2 separate regions of the Homo sapiens genome follow, and region 2 is linked to region 1. Evidence: fine-mapped expression QTL. A gene starts in region 1. The other region holds a variant in brackets. All regions are shown on one strand. Distances are between the middles of the regions.

Region 1 (10,515 bases):
GATTGAAGACGTGGCCAATGATTAGATTGGCAAAGGCAAGAATTCAGAGGAAAACAGGGAAAGTCTAGGATTAAGAATTGAGAATTGCAACATTAAATGGACAGGAAGGGGAAAATGAACAAGCAAGGGAGATACAAAAAGGACAGTCAGAAATATAGCCAAAAAACAGGGTTGTGTAAGGTTACAGAAAGTTGGAGAAGAGAATGCTTGAGGAAGGAGGGAACAGCCAACATAGCATACTCTCCCAAGAGGTTCCTAGTGGACTTTGGTGAGAGCAGTGCTCAGGAGATGATGGGAACAGAAGCCCTACAGAGTGGTTTGAAAAGCAAGTAGAAGCTGAAAAATATGGAGACAGAGTATACACGACCATTCAAAAATCATCGCTGTGAACGGACGGTGGCAGTGGTGAAAGAGAGAGAGAAAGAAAAGGTTGCGGCCAAGGACAAGCAGGGCCCAGTGAAGACTTTCTTTCCTTCAGTTGTAAAGTTATGAACATGGTTAAAAACCCAAAGGATGGAATCCATCAAAATAGCACAGAAAAGGCTGGAAGTAATGAGCTCCCGAAAATAGGTGGTAAAATTTTCTTTATATGGTCGTTGAGAGGGAGAGAGAGACCATTCCTTGTACTCAACAAGACAGAAATGAATTGAATATGGGTTGGAATTATGTTTACTGTCAAGGAAGATAAAAAAGTTGTCACCTCTGTTTCCTCTCTAAGGTAGAAGGTGAAGCCAAAACACTGAAAAGTTTTCCAGGGCAGAGGGTTGAAGCTTTGAGATGAGTAGAAAAGGCAGAAAGTGGTCACTGTAGAGTGAGATAGTGAGTTAACAGAGAATGGCCATAGGCTTCACATATGTTGATCCCTGATCAGATTTCACTCAAATCATCCTCTTGAGATACATTAAATGCTTACTCTTATAATTTTTCCACATTATCAAATTATTAACCAAAACAGGTGAAATCTCTACATATAACCCCCACTCCCAAACTGCTTCTCTTACAGATATTCACACTAAGCAAGTGTATCTAGAAATGTGTGACTTTCCTGTTTTGCCTTCTCTTTTTGTGTTTTGATGAGGAGGATGTTTTAGTTTTCCCTTGGGCACTTCATTTTCTCTAGAATTACTGTGCCTTCTTTAAATTTTTTCTTCTATGTCCCTCTGCTAAGACAGGTAATAACATCAATCTATCAGTGGCATCCCCTCATCTCTTCAGAGTATGGTCTTCTTTACCCCTTCTCTCACAGTTAAATTTGAATATATCATTAGCTTTGTAATTTCAGCATAAAATTGATTTGGTGTGATTGATTTGAAGTATGATTGTCAATGCAATGTTGTTATACCTGCTATAGTACTATAACTGCTGAGGTAAAACCCTTAGCAGTTAAGGCAGTGGATTTTCAAAATATGCGATTAATGTTTTCATAGTTTTTACATAGCACCTGAAATCACCATCACCAAATTTTTCATAATTAGATATTGGTAGCTGTTTTTAAGTGGCACATATGTAGGCACTATGTGTGACACTGAGTTGACTGTAAATGTTGCATTGCACCTTTAATTTGAGGGGAAGTAAAGAAGGAAGGGAAGGAAGCATCAGCAGATACCATTTCCACTTAGCAAACACTATGTCTTGCTTTAGCTATAAATTACACTCAGGTTCTATTCTTGCTTTTCATGCCAAGCTAAAGTGAATCACTCAGTGCAGTGATGCTAATACTTTAAATTATAGTTAGCCAAAAAACCTAGTTATGAAGAAAAGCTAAATTAGTAAATGATAGCAATGTCTGGAACATTCAGAAAAAATATTTTAGAAGTTCATTAGTCAAGGCATTTCATATAAATAAAATATGAGATAAAATCATATAACTTAAGGCTAATGCCTTTTATTAAAGTTTTAGAGCAATTAAATGAAATGCTAGCAACAAACAGAATCCTAGTATATGACTGAATGAAGGTATAATATCTAAAAACACGACAATCTGCATTTCTAATGTAGGGCTGTTTATCCTATAGCCTGTAATTTGTGTCCAGTGATATATATCTGCATATCTGCTCACACTTTCTATGTATGTTTCCTTATTTCTTTAAGTATATAATTTTGTGTTGTAAGACATATCTTGTAATGCAATATTCTTATTTGATTTTCTTTAAGACATGTAAGAGTCAAGTACAAGTAAGATAGGTCTCTTAATAGGAATCTTTTGCGGCGGGAGAGGGGAATATAATGGGAAAAGACTCTCCAAGTAAAAGCAAAAATGACCTTCTTTAGCGTATTTCCACTGTTTTTCAAGTGCAGCAAGAGTAATAAGTCTTGGCAGTTGGAACATGCCATTCACCTGAGGGCTGTCAATCGTTCTCATTTTGAAAGACACAAAACTTATGAATTGTCAACACATCATTTAGGTGAGAAACCAGTGCTCATCAAGAGAAAAAATTAAAACAAATGCTCAAATAAATAGAAAATCAAAATGCTTCCTGGTCATTTTCTTCCAAGAGCTTAATACAGATAATCTACAGTTCATATGCTATAAAAATTGTAACATGTGAGATATGGACAACAAACTGAATGGCTATTACTTTTCCAATGGAATAGAGTCTAGAGAACAATTGCTTGAATTTTTCTTTCTATTCCATATAAAGTAAATTATTTGTCATTGAGCATCCCCCATAAATACAATTATCTAATACTGAAACTGCTGACAGCCTTGTAGGCTATTTCAGTAGTGGAAGCCAGGACTAAACACACTCAACTACATTAGAGGTTGTCCCTGGAGGACAGAATTGAGCTTCATTGGCAAGGGCACCGTAAGAGTTCCATTTGACTCCTCATTAAACCTCTCACAGGGATTCTAGCTGCTTCTCTGTGTCTGCGCTTGCTTTTCTATAGAAGAGATAGATGTGAACCACGTAGGCAAAGATACATTTCTACATATTTAGGAAAAGATCGCTTTTCTTGGTAAAAACTAAGCCTCCTATAGATTTTAAAAAGACCTTCCAGTTTCATGATCATTAACCACCTTTTTATAATTTTCAAAGGAAGTAGAGAGCTTTATTTCAATTTGTGAGAACTTATTTTTCAATGCTTGTTTTATGGCATGTCAGAGATATTATTATTTTTCTGTGTTTATTTTTTCTCCAGGAAAAGTAGCATTAGGGGAAAACAGTTGGTGATAATGATCTCAGCCTTCTTTACCTAACAATGTGGTTGTCATAATGAAATCTGGACCAATATGTAGAAGCAATTGGTGAAACATAAATTACTATATGCACTGTATGTTGCCCCTGGCTGTTTTGTTGATTTGGAGTCTTGAAAATAGCATAATAAGATTTATCATACTTTGGAAGTATTGTATTGAAAAACCAGTCAATAGCTCAAAGAAACACAAAACATGCTCTATGAATTGAAAACCCCACACTGTGGATGACACAGCATTCACATTCTTTATGAGAATCTCTTCTAGGACACTGTTATGGTTTAAGTGCAATAAAAACAAATGAAAGTATTTTATCCAGCAATAGCAATGTAAAATACTTTTCTCTAGAGAGGAAATTTTCTGTGATTATAAAATAATACTTTCAGTCTTCAGCCCATCTAACCACAATGTTACTAATAAAATAACAACAATGCCAATTACTAATGCTTTACTACTTACTGTTTACTGTTATTGTTCCTCCAAAGTGGTCCACATAATATATATATATATATATATATATATACATATATATATATATGCACAAAGACAGAAAGAGCTGAACAAATTGTGATGTATGACTAAGAGAAAAACAGAAAGACGCAGCAGAATATGATTATTTAAAAGGGAGCCTCATTGTGAAAGTTCTTTTAGCATTTACAAGATTAATTTATGATCAGAACTGCTTTAAACGCCCTACGCACATCAGGCAAGGCTATATCCATGTATACACACAGACATATGCATACACACAAATGAATATCATCATACAGACCCATAATTCACAGACACATTTTAAAATTAAATGCTACTCCAAAGAGAAATTGTTGGCATCCTGTGAGTGTGATTGTTGCCCTTGGCCTATATATATCTTATGTTCTAGAGATTAGATCACTTTACAGCCACTTCTGAGGGCGAGTGGGAATAAAATGCTGCTTCAGGAGCGTCAAAATAAAAAGAAAACATATTAAACCAAAGTTCCTATAAGTGCAATCCCAAGGATTAAATGTTCAGATAGCCCGTAAGTCTAACCCAGAGGGAGGGAGGAGCAGTTAACATTTTCTCAAAAGAAAGAAAATGTCCAAACCAATGATGAGTGGACATGAGGGACCTGAAGAGAGCATGTGATGGGAATGTGAAAACAAAAGAAGCTTCTAAAAGAAGACACCAAGGATAATATTCTCACAAAAATTCAGACCATCATTCTATATTTTCATGCATATGAATTTTGGTACATATTTCATGCATATGAAATTTGGTACATATATACATATATGTACCATGCATATACATATGCGTACATATACATATACGTATGCATACACATATGTATCTATGTACACACATACACATATGTGTACACACATATGTACATGCACACACATATGTGTACACATATGTACATGCACACACATGTGTGTACACATATGTACATGTACACATATGTGTACATGTACACATGTGTATATATACATATTCACACTTATGTAAACATATTCAATCTAAAGCTTCCTTAAGACACATACAAACAACAACCAAATGATTAGTGTTTGGCCATTGCTCATGCAGCAAAAGCTGAGTAAACACAGCTCTGGATCCTTTTCTCAGGCCACCACTCCCTAGCTGTGTGACTGACAAAGTCTATGCCTGAACACCTACATTCATGACCAGGGTGGCCTTTCCTGTCTCCTGTTGCCCAAGCATGTCTCAGGTATAAATAAGTTCCAATACTGACAGGGCACAGCAAGGGTAATTTACATGACAATAAGAAATGATTTCTATCTGAACAGTGCATACCAGAGTTGATTTCGACAGACTTATCTTTAAAAAAATACACATAACAAAAAAGGAGACAAGTAGTAGATTGGGGACCCACAGCTTGAAAGTCGTTGCTTGTGATTCTAAAACATCCCAGTAAAATTATTCACAGATAATTGTTTAAAAATATAACTGTACATACCGTTGACACTTGGACAACACAGAGAATCACGTAGTTGAAAATCCACATATAACTTTGAACTCATCAAAACCTTAACTACTAATAGCCTACTCTTGACCGGAAACCTTACTGATAACATAATAAACAGTTGATTAACACACATTTTGTGTTGTATGTATTGTATACTGTATTCTTACAATAAAGTACGCTAGAGAACAGAAAATATTATTAAGAAAACCATAAAGAGGAGAAAATACATTTATATTCATTGAGTGGAAGTGAATTATCATAAAAGTCTTTAACGTCATCCTTTTCAGGCTGAGCAGGCAGAGGAGGAGGAAGAGGGTTTGGTCTTGCTGTCTCAAGGCTGGCAAAGGTGGAAGAAAATCTGCATATAACTGGACCCAACAGTTCAAACCCGTGTTGTTCAAGGGTCATACATGTAAAATACTGTGATTTTTCCCCCTTCTATATTCAGCTTCAGGTGACCCGACACACTTTGGTATCAAAAGAGAATCTGAAATGTACAAGAACTGCGGATTTCAAATGGAAAAGGTGCATAATTGTGCTATTTGTTCCTGGGTGAGTGTGGGACGGAGACGGTGAGAGTGTTGAAATGGGATGGAGATAATGGAAGCAGTGGGGAAGGAGAGAAAATACCCTTCCTATCACACACACTCACACACTCACACTACACACTATTTCTACAGTCACAACTACCCAACTGTTATTGATCCTTTATAACTGCAATTGAGTACAGATGTAGGAAGATTGAGAGGGAACTGGGATCTGGCGCCTGGATTGCTCAAGAGAGGTCAGGGAAACCCCTCAGAACTCCTGAGACCCAGAGATTGAGGGAGGGGTTGAGGCGGAGTCTGCAATGGGGGCTGTCCAGCAGTAGCAAGCAGCGGGCCGATCCTGGTGGAGGGTTGGGAGGCTGCTGTCATTTTATGGGTCGGCAGCCAGAGTGAGAGTGTCCCTGCTGCCAGAGGACTACGGCGGGCTGGGCGCGGGGTCCCCGCCTCTCGCTCACCACACAGACCCCGCGCCTCCTCTGGCAGCCGCGGTGGTGGCGGCGGCAGAGCCTCGCCCACTCCAATCCCCACCCTCTCCATCCTTAGTCATTAAAGAACAGCAGCGCCTGGCACGTTCTTGGAGGACCCCGGGCGCAGAGGAGGAAAGGGAGCAGGCGCAGGGGGACTGGAAAGGCAGCATGCGCTCGCCAGGAGCAACCTCGGCGCCCAGGGTCTGAGGCTGCAGCCCCAGTTCGCCATTGTGAGCCGCCGCCGGGGGAGTCCGCTAGCGCAGCCGTGCCCCCGAGTCCCCGTCCGCGCAGCGATGGGGCACCTGCCCACGGGGATACACGGCGCCCGCCGCCTCCTGCCTCTGCTCTGGCTCTTTGTGCTGTTCAAGGTAGGGGAGCTCCTCCACCCCTTTTTCCCAGCGGTCCGGGCGGCAGCCGCGCTCCGGCGCCCTCGCTCTGCCGTTGGGAGCGGCGCGCCCCAGGGCACGATGGCCCAGCCGCGGGAAGCGCCTGCCGTGCAGCCTGGGCGCACGCTTTGTTGTCCTCGCGTGTGCGTGTTCCTGGTGGTCTTGAGAGGTAGGGGGCGGGGGGAAGAATAAGGGAAGTTTGCTCCCTCCGGCTTTCGCCCTTTGTGCTCTTTTATCGCTGCTGAAATCCACATCAAAGGTGGGCTTGTTGGATCGTGCTTTCTCAGGCAAAATGAGGTCACTTTCTTTTCTGGTTTCCACTGCACCCCAACGCTGCTTAACCTTTCCGCCCTCCCTCGCACAGAATGCTTTGTCTTAATTTTCCTTACTGCTGGAATTATACACTGGAGAGTGGAGGGGGACTGAGCTCCCTGGACACAAATGGACTGCCAGGGCTACGTTAGGGCAGAATTTTCTTTGAATAAGGAGTGTCAGGTAGAGAGCTTGGTAAGGATTCCTCTCCCCAACTCCTATCAACATCTTTACAATTCCTTTTAAAAAGTCTCCAGACTTTCTCCACTATATTTACAGATGATATTACCCCTAGATTTAATGGTGGAAAAATATATAATAATAAACTTTTTCGTATCTTCTTTGGAATGTGCTACCCTGAGGTTTTACTTTGAGAAAAATGAAAAGCAAAGGAGTTGCTTTTGAAAAATCAGTTTGACAACTATACTGTACATAAATTTTTTTGAAGAAATGTCAGCTAGATGTTTTCTTGGACGGCGATGTGAAGTTCTGAAGTGATTGTCTATCACTCATGTCTTCAGTGGATCTACTTTAGTTCTGTTGTTAGTCTTTTCCTCTCTCCGCAAAGCAAACTCAAGAATGTCGACAGGTGACTTGGAGCTATCCTTTCAGGACCACAGTGATACCTTCCCTAGAAATGGATGCCAGGTTAATGGATCCAAAGGTTTTCTTATTATAGAGTCACTTCTTGCTTATATGCACCATTAATTATGAATGCCTAAAAAGAATATAATGGAACAGGACCAATGGATTAAGAACAGCATTACTTTTAAATACTCCATATTTTCATTTATCTTAATGAAAAATATAAAAAAAATTCAGGGAGAAACAGCAACAGAATGCCTAAGTAAGACCTTAAAATATATTTAATATGTTTTAACATTTTTTCTTAAATTATCAATAATCATTAATTTTAAAGTATGGTAAATAATAAGCTCAGTTATATGTTTTTACTGTAGGAGGTTGTTCTTTCATACACATCATAAATGCATTAGACTTATTAGGTTGTCTATTAGTCGTTTTCTAACTATTTATCAAACTGTCACAACTATTTTACCTATGCAATAATTGTCATGAACCAAAAATTAGAAACCAAGTCACTATGCATTTTACGAGCAACAGCTAAGAGTTATATGTATGACATCTGATCCAAACCTAACGTTTAGCACAACTGCAGGTTTTTGCGTGAGTTCTTCATAATGAGATAATTCCAGAAATAAGAGAATGACTTGGTTGGGAGTGGGGGTAAGGTTTTGCAATTAAAATAAAATAAATGTGGCCATTGTTTGACTTAAAACTCGATATTGGAATGAGAAAATGCAGTTAGTGATGGTGTAATGAAAATGTTAGTGATTGTCATAGAGGTCCAGCCTGCTTCACATAATAGGTATATTCCTGAACATTGCAGGTAAATGTAAATTATGGCAAACTGCTTCCATAGTAAATACATTGGCAAAGTTTGCCATTTAAATAATAATTATTGTAGTGGGACACATAATTTTGTAAGAAAAATCATTTTCCTTTATTTTATGTGAATGTAATATTTTTGTCACCTGAATATAAACTATATCAGAGGAAAGAAGAAAAAACTGTATATATTAAATACCTTCTATGTGCTGGTTTTTTAGGCATTTTACATACGTTATTTCATTTAATCCTATTTTGCTGCAGTTGACAAGAGTTGTTCAAAAAAAATGGTAAATTGGGCACACAGTGTAATATCTTACATTTAGAGGATAGTATATTACATGGTGCGTTGGGCACATGGTATAATCTCTTTATAATTTGGAGATATTTTTGAATTAAAGGTCCTGATTAAGTGCCAGTAAAACAGATCTACTCAAGCAGGTTGTGACTGGAGGATGAGAAAAAATTCATTATTAAATACCAAACTGCTAACTGTATCTCAATAATAAAATCCAAAATGTTCCACGTGTGCCGAGTCAGAAATGAAACATTCTCTCAACTCTCCCTTGCCAAAATAATTTCCATAGTTTTCACTATAGTTAATACATTTTTCACTACTCCATATGTGTATCCTTTATATAAGAGTGAAAATTCTGAAGGAAAATAAGACAGAGAAATTCAAGTATGAGGCTTAATTTACAGCTTTACATTTTCCACAACTCAAAAATAAGCAGCTGGATATCAGTGGTGGAAAAGTAGGAAAGTTTGAATGTGTATGAATGGCTATAATCAGTTCCATTGAGGGAGACTAAATGTGACTGGCCAAGAAGGTCTTTGTGCCATCGTTCCTTATCCATGGAGCAGTGATGAGCACATATAATCGGGCATCTCAGACTGTCTAAATCATTCACTGCACATTATGAAGCTAATATCTGCATAATTTATCTTGCCTAAACACAATGTTGGTTATGAAAATTTTTATTTTTATATCAATATTGATGGTGTATATAAAATAGAAGAAAAAATGGAACTCTGTTATTATATTGAAGGCTACTAATTTCAAAGTCTTCTATGGATGAATGCAAGTGAGGTATTTATCTGGCGAGCCTCGCTGTTGTGTGTCTTCCCATAATTCCCAGTGAAAGAAATGTAACTTCCTACACTTGTCCTATCTTTACTAAAGCCCTCCTAGAAAATGTCTTCCTGTATCAGTTTACTCAGTATAAGTACTTTGTCTACTAAGGTGCAAATCGTGGAATATGACATCATAGGAATTTGAAGTTGGCCTTCCCTGAAATGTTGCTTTTTAGTAGTCAGCTGGAATATATTCCTAAACTCAAGTGCTTGGCGTGTGTCCTTCTTTTTTAACCCCTTCTCTCTATTTCTTTCTATTTCTGCTTTTACCAGAGATATCATCAAAGAATATCAAATTTAAAAAGGGTCTTAATATTGTACTTTCTGAAACAGGTTTATATTTAATTCTATAATACATGAGTGTTATGATACTGGCCATTCTACTCTTATCCAGGGGAAATATCTGTTTTCCACGGTCTGTCTGCCTTTCCTTTCCTATGTCTCCCCTCGCAACCCCATACACACACACAAAGAAGTTTCACTTTTCGTGGTTGAGGTTTCATCCATAAATTGCACAGTGTTGGCAGGTGAACCATAATCCTTTCATTTTGCTGGAGCAGCTTAGATCCTTTCCATCACAATGAAGTTTGCTGCCCTTAACTCCCATGTCATCTGACTCCTTTAATAAATCATATTGCCAACCTTTTGGAGAAACCTTTTTACATGTGACATCCCCAGTAGGTTGGCAAAGGCTCCCTGGGCCATGCTTCTACAGATGATCGAGTAATAATCCTTCCCACTGTGAACATATGTTTCCTTTTGTTCTTTGTTTTGTGAGAGACTATCGTTGTGTGAAGGAATGAAAAATTCACATTACACCTCTGCCTCATTTTGGCCCAAAAGAAAATGCACATTTATGTGGATAACTGATTAAAAACAATATGAGTTGTACTTTATTTTAAAATGTAACACTATTTCTACTATCTAAATATCCAACTTAAAGGTATTTAAACGTATAAGCAGATTTACTCCTGAACCTTATAAATATAATTCTAACTTGAGGGGTTGTAAAAGAATGTTTGATGTCAGATACAGTTGATGCACTTAAGTAAAACATTGTAATTGGTAGCAGTGTGGCACAATAGAAGGCTTAACAACA
Region 2 (10,515 bases), 230 kb after region 1:
TTTAATTTAATCACCTCTTTAAAGGCCCTATTCATCCTGGGTGTGGTGGCTTACGCCTGTAATCCCAAAACTTTGGGTGGCTGAGGTGGGTGGATCACTTGAGGTGAGGAGTTCGATACCAGCCTGGCCAACATGGTGAAACCCCGTCTCTACTAAAAATACAAAAATTAGCCGGGTGTGGTGGCAGGCACCTGTAGTCCCAGATACTCAGGAGGCTGAGTGGGAGGATCGCTTGAATCTGGGAGGTGGAGTTTGCAGTGAGCCAAGATCATGCCACTGCACTCCAGCCTGGGTGACAGAGCAAGACTCCACCTCAAAAAAAAAAATAGTCACATTCTGAGGTACTAAGGGTTAGGGTTTCAGCATATGAATTTAGGCGGAGGGGATATAATTCATCCCATAACAAAGATAGAAAGCAATCAAAATGCCTTTGATGTCATTGTATTCCCTATCATATGCAATTGCCTAATTAATATTTAGCCACTATCTACTTTAATCTTGTGCTTCTGAGAATGGAAAACATGAGTCATGTAAACCAGGGGTGTCCAGTCTTTTGGCTTTTGGCTTCCATGTGCCACACTGGAAGAAGAATTATCTTGGGCCACACATAAAATATGCTAACACTGATGAATCAAAAAAATTTCACTAAAAGTATCTCACAATGTTTTAAGAAAGTTTATGAATTTGTGTTGGGCTGCATTCAAAGCCATTCTGGGCAGCATGCGGCCTACGGGCCATGGGTTGGACAAGTTTGATCTAAACCATCTTAGGCTGTGGCACTGAGCTGGCCTTGACTTCTCATGAGAAGTGGGAACCCCCTAGCCAGTTTTTGCCAGAAATTTCCAGACTTCTACTCTAGGCAATAAGAAGAAATGCTCTAACTCAGTACTATTCATTTGAAACATAATAAGGGCCACATGTATAACTTTCAATTTTCTAGTAGCCACATTAAAAATTAGTAAAAAGAAACAGGTAAAATTGAATTCGATATACTTTATGTAACCAAATATATCCAAGGTCATATTGTTCCAACATATAATCAATATAAATAATTATTAATAAGATATTTTATTCTTTTCTCACACTAGGTCTTTGACATTCTGTCTGTATTTTACATTTGCAACACCTCTCAATTTGGACTAGCCACATTTCAAGTACGCAACAGCTACATGTGGCTAGTGGCTGTGTTGGACAATTCACATTCCGATTCTTACATTTTAAAACATTTCCTGGGACAGTTGTTGTCTTGAGTAGGAAAATCTAATTATAAGCACTCCCAATTCAATTATACTTTCACTTGTGAAATCTTGTAATAGTAATAAGTTCATAATTATAATAACAATAAATTGTAATAACTTTCTTTGTTTCCTTTGGGATACCAGAGTTAAATTTCTGCCTGATTAATTTAGGGAAGCACACCAATCACGAAGATCCTGAACAGTCCTCAAGCAGGTGATTTATGTATGTATTCATTGACCTATAGAGCTGACATGTAAACGTCTTCCAGAAAAGTACACAGTGATCACAGGTGCAGGGACCTTGAAATAATCTATTGCCCTCATATTCCACCCAAAAAGAAAAATTTGTTACGTGGTTGTTAGATGTCCCAGACCTTTAGGAGATTTTCCTGAGGATCTTATCACCTAGAGCCACATTCTCAGCCAGAACAAAGGAAACCCTCACTGCAGTATTCATGTCGTATTCCTTGGACCACTGGGAGCTCTTGCAGTAATTCATGATAGTTCTTGACTTTGCCCCTGAAATTGGATAATTTTACCTACATAAAAACAGAAGAGAACATTAAGATACAACCTCAGCGTGTCTGGTCTTGCCTGGTGCTTGAATCCTCCTCTTTTGGTTGATGAATCTTGACTCATGTTTTAAATCAGCCGATAAATAAGATTTTTTGAGTACCTATAGGTGGCTACTTCAAATGAAGACAAAGTCATTTATAACACATGACCCTTGTTCTTAAAGAATCTAATAGGATCTACTAGAATCAGGCCTTCACTCACATAGATTATATAGGAAATAATTAAAGGCAGTAGAATGTCAGAGAAGGGATAAATCATTAAGAGAAAGAGTCACCAAATGAGACTTCAAGGAGGAGGTAAGACTTTTTCTTGACCTTCGAATGAGCAGAATAAAGAGCATACTGATTGAAGGCAAACATGGGCTGACATAGAGCACTGCCCTGAAGTTCAGTGAGAAGACTGTCTTTCCCAGGAGGCAACACATCTGTGTGTCAGGAATGGTGGTGAAGCTGGTTGGATAGCATGCAGCCAGTTTAAGCAGGATCTTAAAGACATGGTATGTTTGGATGTGATACCACAGACAATGCACAGATAGGATTTAACATGAGTGAAATGGCATTTTAAGGTGATTTTAATCCGTTGTTGACAAAATGAAGAAAGAATTGATTAGAGCCAGGGAAAAAGAGGCACAGCAAGTTTGTGATGATCAATGAATGTGATCACAAAAGTCTAGACATGCAATATAATTTAAAAATAGATTAAAGGAGGCCGGGGGTGGTGGCTCATGCCTATAATCCCAGCTCCCAGCACTTTGGGAGGCAGAGGCAGGCAGATCACAAGGTCAGGAGATCGAGACCATCCTGGCCAACATGGTGAAACCCTGTCTCTACTAAAAATACAAAAAAATTAGCTGGGCATGGTGGCATGCGCCTGTAGTCTCAGCTACTCAGGAGGCTGAGGCAGGAGAATTTTTTGAACCCGGGAGGCAGAGGTTGCAGTGAGCCGAGATTGCACCACCACTGCACTCCAGCCTGGTGACAGAGCGAGACTCCATCTCAAAAAAAAAAAAAAAAAAAAAGATTAAAGGAAAAGGTAACGAGTTTTTAAAAGATATGCTCTCTGGGACTGAGAAATAAGGGAAGAGCCTCAGAATTGTGACTGAGGAACAATTCTGTAGTGTGCATTTTTAAAAAAGAAAAGCCTAGGCTCAGCCTAACTAATCATTCATCTATGCCCCCAAACAACTTCACACTTGGTTCTATAGATTCAAGTTCCACATGAGTCAGAATCCCTAAAGGACATAATCCTATTAGCAAAGGCAGTTATAAAGGAAGTGAGAAGTGGAAATTGACCTCTGTGTTTCATTAGCAGTCTTCCTCAGAGCAGAAGTGGGACAATACAATGCCTGGAGGACTGGACAATTCATTGCAAGTGAAAAAGGGCTCCTGACACCTATTGTGAATTTTGCTTGCCTAAGAAGAACTCATCTCTTTCCTCCTTCAACTCTTCTGCCTAACCTTGTCAAGTTGCTGCAGGAAAGAAACATGCTTCTTTTTAGTTGGACACAAGTTTAGGAGATCTGTGATAAATCATGGCAAGAATGATTTTGACATACTTCTTGGTCCTGGGCAGAGTCACAATGATGATATTCTAGAAACAAGGTTCAAATCTTTCCACACAAAGATGTGTACCTGTCAAAGCAGTGAAATGGCTGACAGGACTTTTTCAAGCACCTCTAAAGGACAGGAGCTGGAGAACAGACTTAGGAGAGTGGGGCAGAAAATGAAAAATCCAAGTAACAAGCAGGAAGAAACCTACAACAGTGGGTAGTCGTCTGACAGGCGCATATAGGTGGATGGAGGATGCTGTTATGTGAACCTAGCAGCAAGGTACAATATGTCCAAATAAGCAATGTCAGGGGGTCTGAGAGCAGGTAACAGGGACCCCAGCTTAAAACCTTGAGTTCAGGCACAGCACTCTGCATACTGGGGGACCTAGAGGGAAAGACAACATCCAAAAGACAGGGTCACAAGCAGAAGACCAGGAGACATTCAGGAATGGAGAATGAGACAGCAGATGACTATTAGAATTGAGGAACAGGCAGGGTTTTTTGGTCTCAAGAGAGCAATGCCAGTGACTCAATTACTAGAAATAAGTATGAAAAGGACAGACAACACAGCTTCCTTTACGAATGGATTTATTTATTATTAAGATAAAATGTCTAAGATAAAAAATTTATCTAATGTTTTATTAATCTTCCAATCCCCTCCTATCAATTCTTTTCTTAAAAAATTATATTATCAGCCAGGCACGGTGGCTCACACCTGTAATCCCAATACTTTGGGAGGCCAAAGTGGGTGGATTGCTGGAGCCCAGGAGTTTGAGACCAACTTGAGCAACATGGCAAAACTCCATCTCTGCAAAAAATGCAAAAATAAGCCAGGTAGTCCCAGTTACTTGGGAGTCGAGGCAGGAGGATCACTTGAGCCAGGGAAGATGAGGCTTCAGTGAGCTGTGTTCGCACTACTGCACTCCAGCCTGGGTGACAGAGTGAGACCCCCGCCTCAAAAAAAAAAAAAAATGATACTATCTGTTTAGCTTTATCTTTTTAAATTTTGACTAAATTTTCAAGCAGCCATTTTTCTGTCTGAATTGTTCCAGATAGTTTCCAGAGAAAGGAAGACAGGTTGTTGGCTAAATACCAAACTGCATCTCATCATTAGAAGGAA[G/A]CACACCAAATTTCATTTTTCTCCACCTTTATTAAGTGCAGATTTTTGTTTCTCATCCAGGAAGTTCTGTATTATCAGGGCAATGCTAACTTCAGTATAAATGACACAGAAACTATTAATAGATTATGACTATGATGAAACTGAAGTAGAAAACAGAAGTGTTCTGAAAAGAGAAGTAAAAAAATGGAAGGGGGAAAAGGCAAAGTATTCTGCCTTCCAAGTTAGATAGCTATCTTTATGAAAGGACATATTTCAAAGGCAATATAAAGTCTTTATGGTGCTCTTACCTACCTATATTTGAATTGGGGGATGCTTCACCTGCTTATTAGTGAAAGAAGAAAGAATACACTTAGTAAATTAAATTTTTTTTAAAACTTTGTCTTTGCTCAGAACCAGCTCCACCCAAATCACTCTTCGCAGTGAACAAAACCCAGACTTCAGTGACTTTGCTGTGGGTGGAAGAGGGAGTAGCTGATTTCTTTGAAGTTTTCTGTCAACAAGTTGGCTCCAGTCAGAAAACCAAACTTCAGGTACTGTACCTTTTGATCTACCTTTTCTCAGTTAACTTAAGTAAGGCTAATTATCTGGGCAAAATAAGAATCTTCTATTTCTTTGAGCTATATAAAATGAAAACTGTTTATTTGCTCTTTTGTGTTTCACTGATAGAAATTAACAGCAGGCTTAGACCAAGCCCAAAAGTTGTTATGAGAACTTTTATCTTTGTCTGTATCACTTGTTCCTAATTCATAAGTCACTCCAGGTCAGACAAAGGAATAAAGGTAGTAGGCCATTGAATTGATCAAGGGAAGAAAGACCCTACAATATAAAATATAATTTAACAAATATGAACCATTTGCCAAGTATATAAAGGCACTGAATAGAACACACATGATAGAATCAATATTTGCCTTCAAAACATTTTTATATGGTGTAGACATTGCATAAGTATAGAAAAAAGTAAAGTAAAATATAAGTACCACAAGACAGGTCCATTCGACCAAGAGAATTTAAAAGAAACGTGCATATCTAGTTTGTAAGGGGGACAGTCTTATTGCAAAATGAAGACTGAGAGAAGGTTATTGCTAAAGCTCTAGAATTACAAATGGCAGATACGATAAACAGAGTTATTCACCAGGTCAGAATGAATGAAAGGAAAGAGATGAACCTGCAGTTCTATGAGTGGCAACGCCACAAGGAAAAAATATTTCACAGCCAGAAGTGAAAGGAAAAGGACAGATTTGTTAGGGATTTTACATAATATAGTGTGTAGACTAATACTGCGAACATAAGTAATTGATCTTTTTTAAATAATGAAGTTCATGAGATTGAGAAGAAAAAAGGAATGCTGGGAGTGCAAATCTTTTCATATTGAATGCTAAGATAATTTGCTTTGATTCCTTTCTCCTTTTGAGATTCCCTTCTATGAATGTATCTCTTGTTGATTTGTACTGAACAGCTGAATTTTCTCTATTCTAAGAATCCTTTTGGAAAATAACTGCTCTGCCAATAATGGATTTTCTTCTCTATAACTACAGTGATGCCTTCCTTTAAGAAAACAATGGTTAGTTAGCTACTTACTACAACTGAGTCCTGTTAGCAAAAGTCTTTCCTTAGAATAATTCTTTTATAGAATAGTGAAAGAGAAGGAAGTGGAAGAAAATGCTGATGGCTCTCATTTCTTTATGCAAGGGTGTTTCAAAATCTTGTTTTGAAAAAAATGCTGGCTCATCTTTTGCTGTTGTACAGTAGTACTTGTCACTAGTCTGGCCATGGGTCCACCAAGTTAGCAACTTCTTTGACTCAAGAATAAGTTAATACTAAATGTTTCTTAGTGCGGATAGTTGCCATGTTTTAGTGGATGTTATATAAAAGCTAAGAATGCAGACAAAGGTGTAGTGTCCTTAATATATAAAGAATTGCTACAAGTCAAAAAAGGTAAAGGTCAACAACCCAAAACAAATATTTCATAGAAAAATACAGAAATCTCTTGAACAGATGAAAACTTCAGCAACCTCACTTACGGTAAAAAAAAAATGCAAAATAAAACTACAATATACAATTTTCACTAGTAATAATGGGAAAGCTCAGAGTTTGCAAATGTATGGTACTGGAAAGAATGTAGGGAGGCAGGCATTGTCACGCATTGATGCCAAAGGTGAGTAACTTGCAAAATGTCTGTAGAGAACTATTTTTCTATAGCTTTCAAAATTTTAAATGTACACTTTTTGACTCAGCAGTTCAAAGAATGTGACACTAGCAAAGAATATATGAGTATATGTGTATGTGTGTACGTTCACACATATATACATATTACATGCATATATTGTGTGTATATATGTGTGTATATATATGTGTGTGTGTGTGTGTGTGTGTGTCTATATGCATATGTGTGTGTCTTCCCAAATTTGTGAAATGAAGTTCATTGTAGCATTGTTTGCAATAGCAAAAAATCAGAGACCATTTACACATTCATCAACCGGGGCTCATTAAATAAATTATGGTATGTCCTTTCAACGGATTTCTGTCCAGCTCTTAAAAAGAATAAAACAGCTTAATCTGTACTGATATGGAAAAAGCACCAAAATATATTGATAGCTAAGGTAAAAAAATTAGCAGAATAATGTGTAGGCTAAGCCATCACTTATGTTTTTTAACTGTGTCATATATGTTCATACATCCATAAAATGCATATGGGAAGAAAAATAATGCCTGACAACATGGAATAATGCTGCTTCCATGGAAGGGAATTGGTCAGATGGGGAATGGGGAAAAAAGGAAACATTTTTCAATGCTATTCTTTGTCATCTTATACATTTTTTACTCTGTCAATCTATTACCAACTCAACTATGAAATATATTTTTAAAAAATATAGATGAAGTTAACCTAAAATTTACCTTATTTTCTGAAACCCCAGGAACCAGTTGCTGTTTCTTCCCATGTCGTGACCATCTCCAGCCTTCTTCCTGCCACTGCCTACAATTGTAGTGTCACCAGCTTTAGCCATGACAGCCCCAGTGTCCCTACGTTCATAGCCGTCTCAACAATGGGTAATTATACACATTAGTGTATAATTTTCTCACTTTTTTTGAATATATATATATATATGTATTTGTATCAATATTCCACCAAGAAATCCCAAGCTTCGGAGTCAGAGAGTCCTTAATTTCAATCCCAAAGTGCACTTACTAGCTATGGAGTTAGAGAAAGACATTTGGTGCCTCTGAGCTTTTCTTTCATCTGTAAAATTGGAATAATAATATGTAACTTTCTGAGTTGTTTTGAAGCTTAGAAATAAAATACTTAAATCCTTAGTATATGCTGTCTAAATGCTAGTTGCTAACTCATCTCATCTTCTTCAGTAATAGGCACAGTACTCTTATCAATCCAATTTCATCTATTTAGCCTTGGTCTTCATCTGTCACCGATCAGAGAATGACATAATTGATAACTGGGTCAAAGCAAGAAAGTTTCCAATCCAGCCAAAAGTATAAGTGGGAAAATTAGAGGTTAATGAAAGGTCTGGAATGATGCTGTTTATTTCCTTATTCTTTTCTTAGTTGTATTACATGTGTTACTCCTGGTTTGTTAGAGTCTGATTCTGCAACCTGAGACCCTCTATGAAGCCTCTTGTAATAAAGTCACTCATAACTTCACTGGTTTAGTTCCATTTCTGTAATATTAGTCATATATTTAGCTGCTAAATTCAGGGATGACTGGAGCGGACTGTTTTCTTTTTTCTTTTTCTTTTTGGTTTTCTGTTTTTAATTTTTGTTTTTTCAGAAGAGAGGACAAAAAATATACCTGCAAAGTATTTTAATGGTCTCTCATTCCTACATCCTTGTACACTTTCTAAAATATACAGTTGACGATGAATAATGAGAGACTTAGAAGTGCCAACCTCTGCATAGTTGAAAATCCATGTATAATTTTTGACTCCCTCAAAACTTAACTACTCATAGGCTACTGTTGACCTGAAGTCTTACCAATGATATAGACAGTTGATCAACACATTTTTGTATGTTATACTTATTATATATTGTATTCTTACAATAAAGTAAGCTAGAGAAAAGAAAATGTTATTGAGAAAATCGTAAGGAAGAGAAAATATATGTACTATTCATTAAGTGGAAGCAGATCTTCATAAAGATCTTCCTCATGGTCTTCACATTGAGTAGGCTGAGGAGGAGGAGGAAGAGGAGGGTTTGGTCTTGCTGTCTCAAGGGTGGCAGAGAGTAAAGATAATCCATATATATGTGAACCTGCACAGTTCAAACTCATTTTGTTCAAGGGTCAACTGTACCTTAATGTCCATCATTCCTTGTCAGCTCCATGACAATGTAGCATAACAGGTGATATTATTAAACTTATTTATAAATGAGGAAAATGAGGCCCATAGGGCAGATGAAATGGCTTCTCTCCAAATAGCAGTACTCAAGCGAAAAAGCTCTTCTGATCATGCGTCCATTGTTCTTTCTGTTTAAGCACTCTACTCATAAACTGGAGCCAAGCTGGCCCAAATGGGAAGTGGTAAATACCCAGAACCTTAGGGATCAGATGCACCTGCTCATTCTGTGACTTTATGATCAATGCAAAAGATGGTATGAGTCCTCAGGCCCATTTTAAAGAGTTTTATAAGAATATTAAACCTATGTTCCTGCCTTTGATATCCTGTTCTTCCGTGTAGTATGAAGAAGTAGACAATGTGTAAGTGCCACAGGAGACAAGTCTTTATATAGAGTACATGAAAAGGACGTGACCCCTGTTCTTCAGGGCCCTACAACCTATTAATAGGTTTTATCTCTTGAGCTGTGCAGATGGAAAACCCCTAAACATATGGCCACGGATCATCAGAATGTCTGCTTCTAGTAATGTGTTAAGTGCTTCAGCAGATGGTAGTTTGCTAATGTCTTTTTGATATACATTATTAGTTGTAAGCAAAGTATACAGTTGTGCTTTCTGACTTCAAAATCATGGGCGTAAAATAAGAGGTTGCCACCCTCTAAGCTTGTGAAAATGTTAAAAAACGATAATGCATGGTAATGACTTCCACATTTTTAGCTTTCAAATGAATTTAAACTGTGGCACAGGTATTCTTCATTCTTTAGTTTCCCTATGTAAGAATATCCTGAATGTTGTAGGCCTTTGAAAGGGACTCAATTCTTCCAGACACCTCAATACCACTTATCAGTCTAGTTTGCTAAGTTACAGTTGACCAGGAAGAGGTCATTGCTGGCTTGGGGAACATGATTGTTACTATTATTGGTATCATCGTAAGCTCACTGCCCTTAAGACTAGATGAAAAGCAATGAATGGTTCTGTTTGGTTCCCTGTAAGAGAACCTATGATGAAAATGCACAACTTATCTCTTTAGTTACAGAGATGAATCCCAATGTGGTAGTGATCTCCGTGCTGGCCATCCTTAGCACACTTTTAATTGGACTGTTGCTTGTTACCCTCATTATTCTTAGGAAAAAGCATCTGCAGATGGCTAGGTAAGTTAAGTTTTACTAATATTTTATCCGGAATCTTTAAAATATCTTTATCTGCCATATATATATTGTTTTTGCACACCTAAGTTGTATAGCGGTATATTGGATTTTAGTTTTCAGTGTCTGTTTCTATTGTGTGTGTTTTCTAAATAGACTTCGAAACATTATATTGGAAAATATTACCATTGAAATGAGAAAGCAAAGGATTGCTTGTTTACACAAAGTCAGACCTCTTGCTATCAATCTTGGCATTTGAAGTAGCCCATATATGGAGATCCATTACATTTGGGTACTTTCATACACATTTGGAATAAAAGAAATATCTATGACAGTTCAGTATAGTTAATGAAAAAAGTTAATAAAAATGGAGATGACAAGAAAGAACGGGGTGGGGGGCGGGAAATCCTCTCCATAATTTTAAGCTGTTCTATTGGAAAATATTTGTACAGTTTATGATTAGGTCCATTAGCAGTCTCTATTAGTTTTATTCCTATTACTCAGAGTTGCAGCCAGCTTAGTTTTTCTTGCAATTAGAAAAGCCT

The links.
Region 2: its variant is fine-mapped to the expression of PTPRO in whole blood (INTERVAL, PIP above 0.99). The same link has a PIP of 0.9 or more in blood mononuclear cells.

The regions. Positions count from the first base shown.
Region 1 is chr12:15,316,257-15,326,771 of GRCh38, forward strand. It overlaps PTPRO (protein tyrosine phosphatase receptor type O), which reads left to right and starts at 6,252. Exons shown (of 27, transcript NM_030667.3): 1 at 6,252-6,545. The coding sequence starts at 6,471. The region is part of intron 2 of LOC105369673 (a long non-coding RNA gene); the gene reads right to left.
Region 2 is chr12:15,541,696-15,552,210 of GRCh38, forward strand. PTPRO (protein tyrosine phosphatase receptor type O) reads left to right here. Exons shown (of 27, transcript NM_030667.3): 13 at 4,874-5,013; 14 at 7,399-7,531; 15 at 9,856-9,976. It overlaps LOC105369672 (a long non-coding RNA gene), which reads right to left. Exons shown (of 3, transcript XR_002957403.2): 2 at 1,613-1,777. Among named protein-coding and RNA genes, the nearest start is that of PTPRO, 220 kb to the left of the region's middle. The variant G/A (reference allele first, on the strand shown) is at 4,484.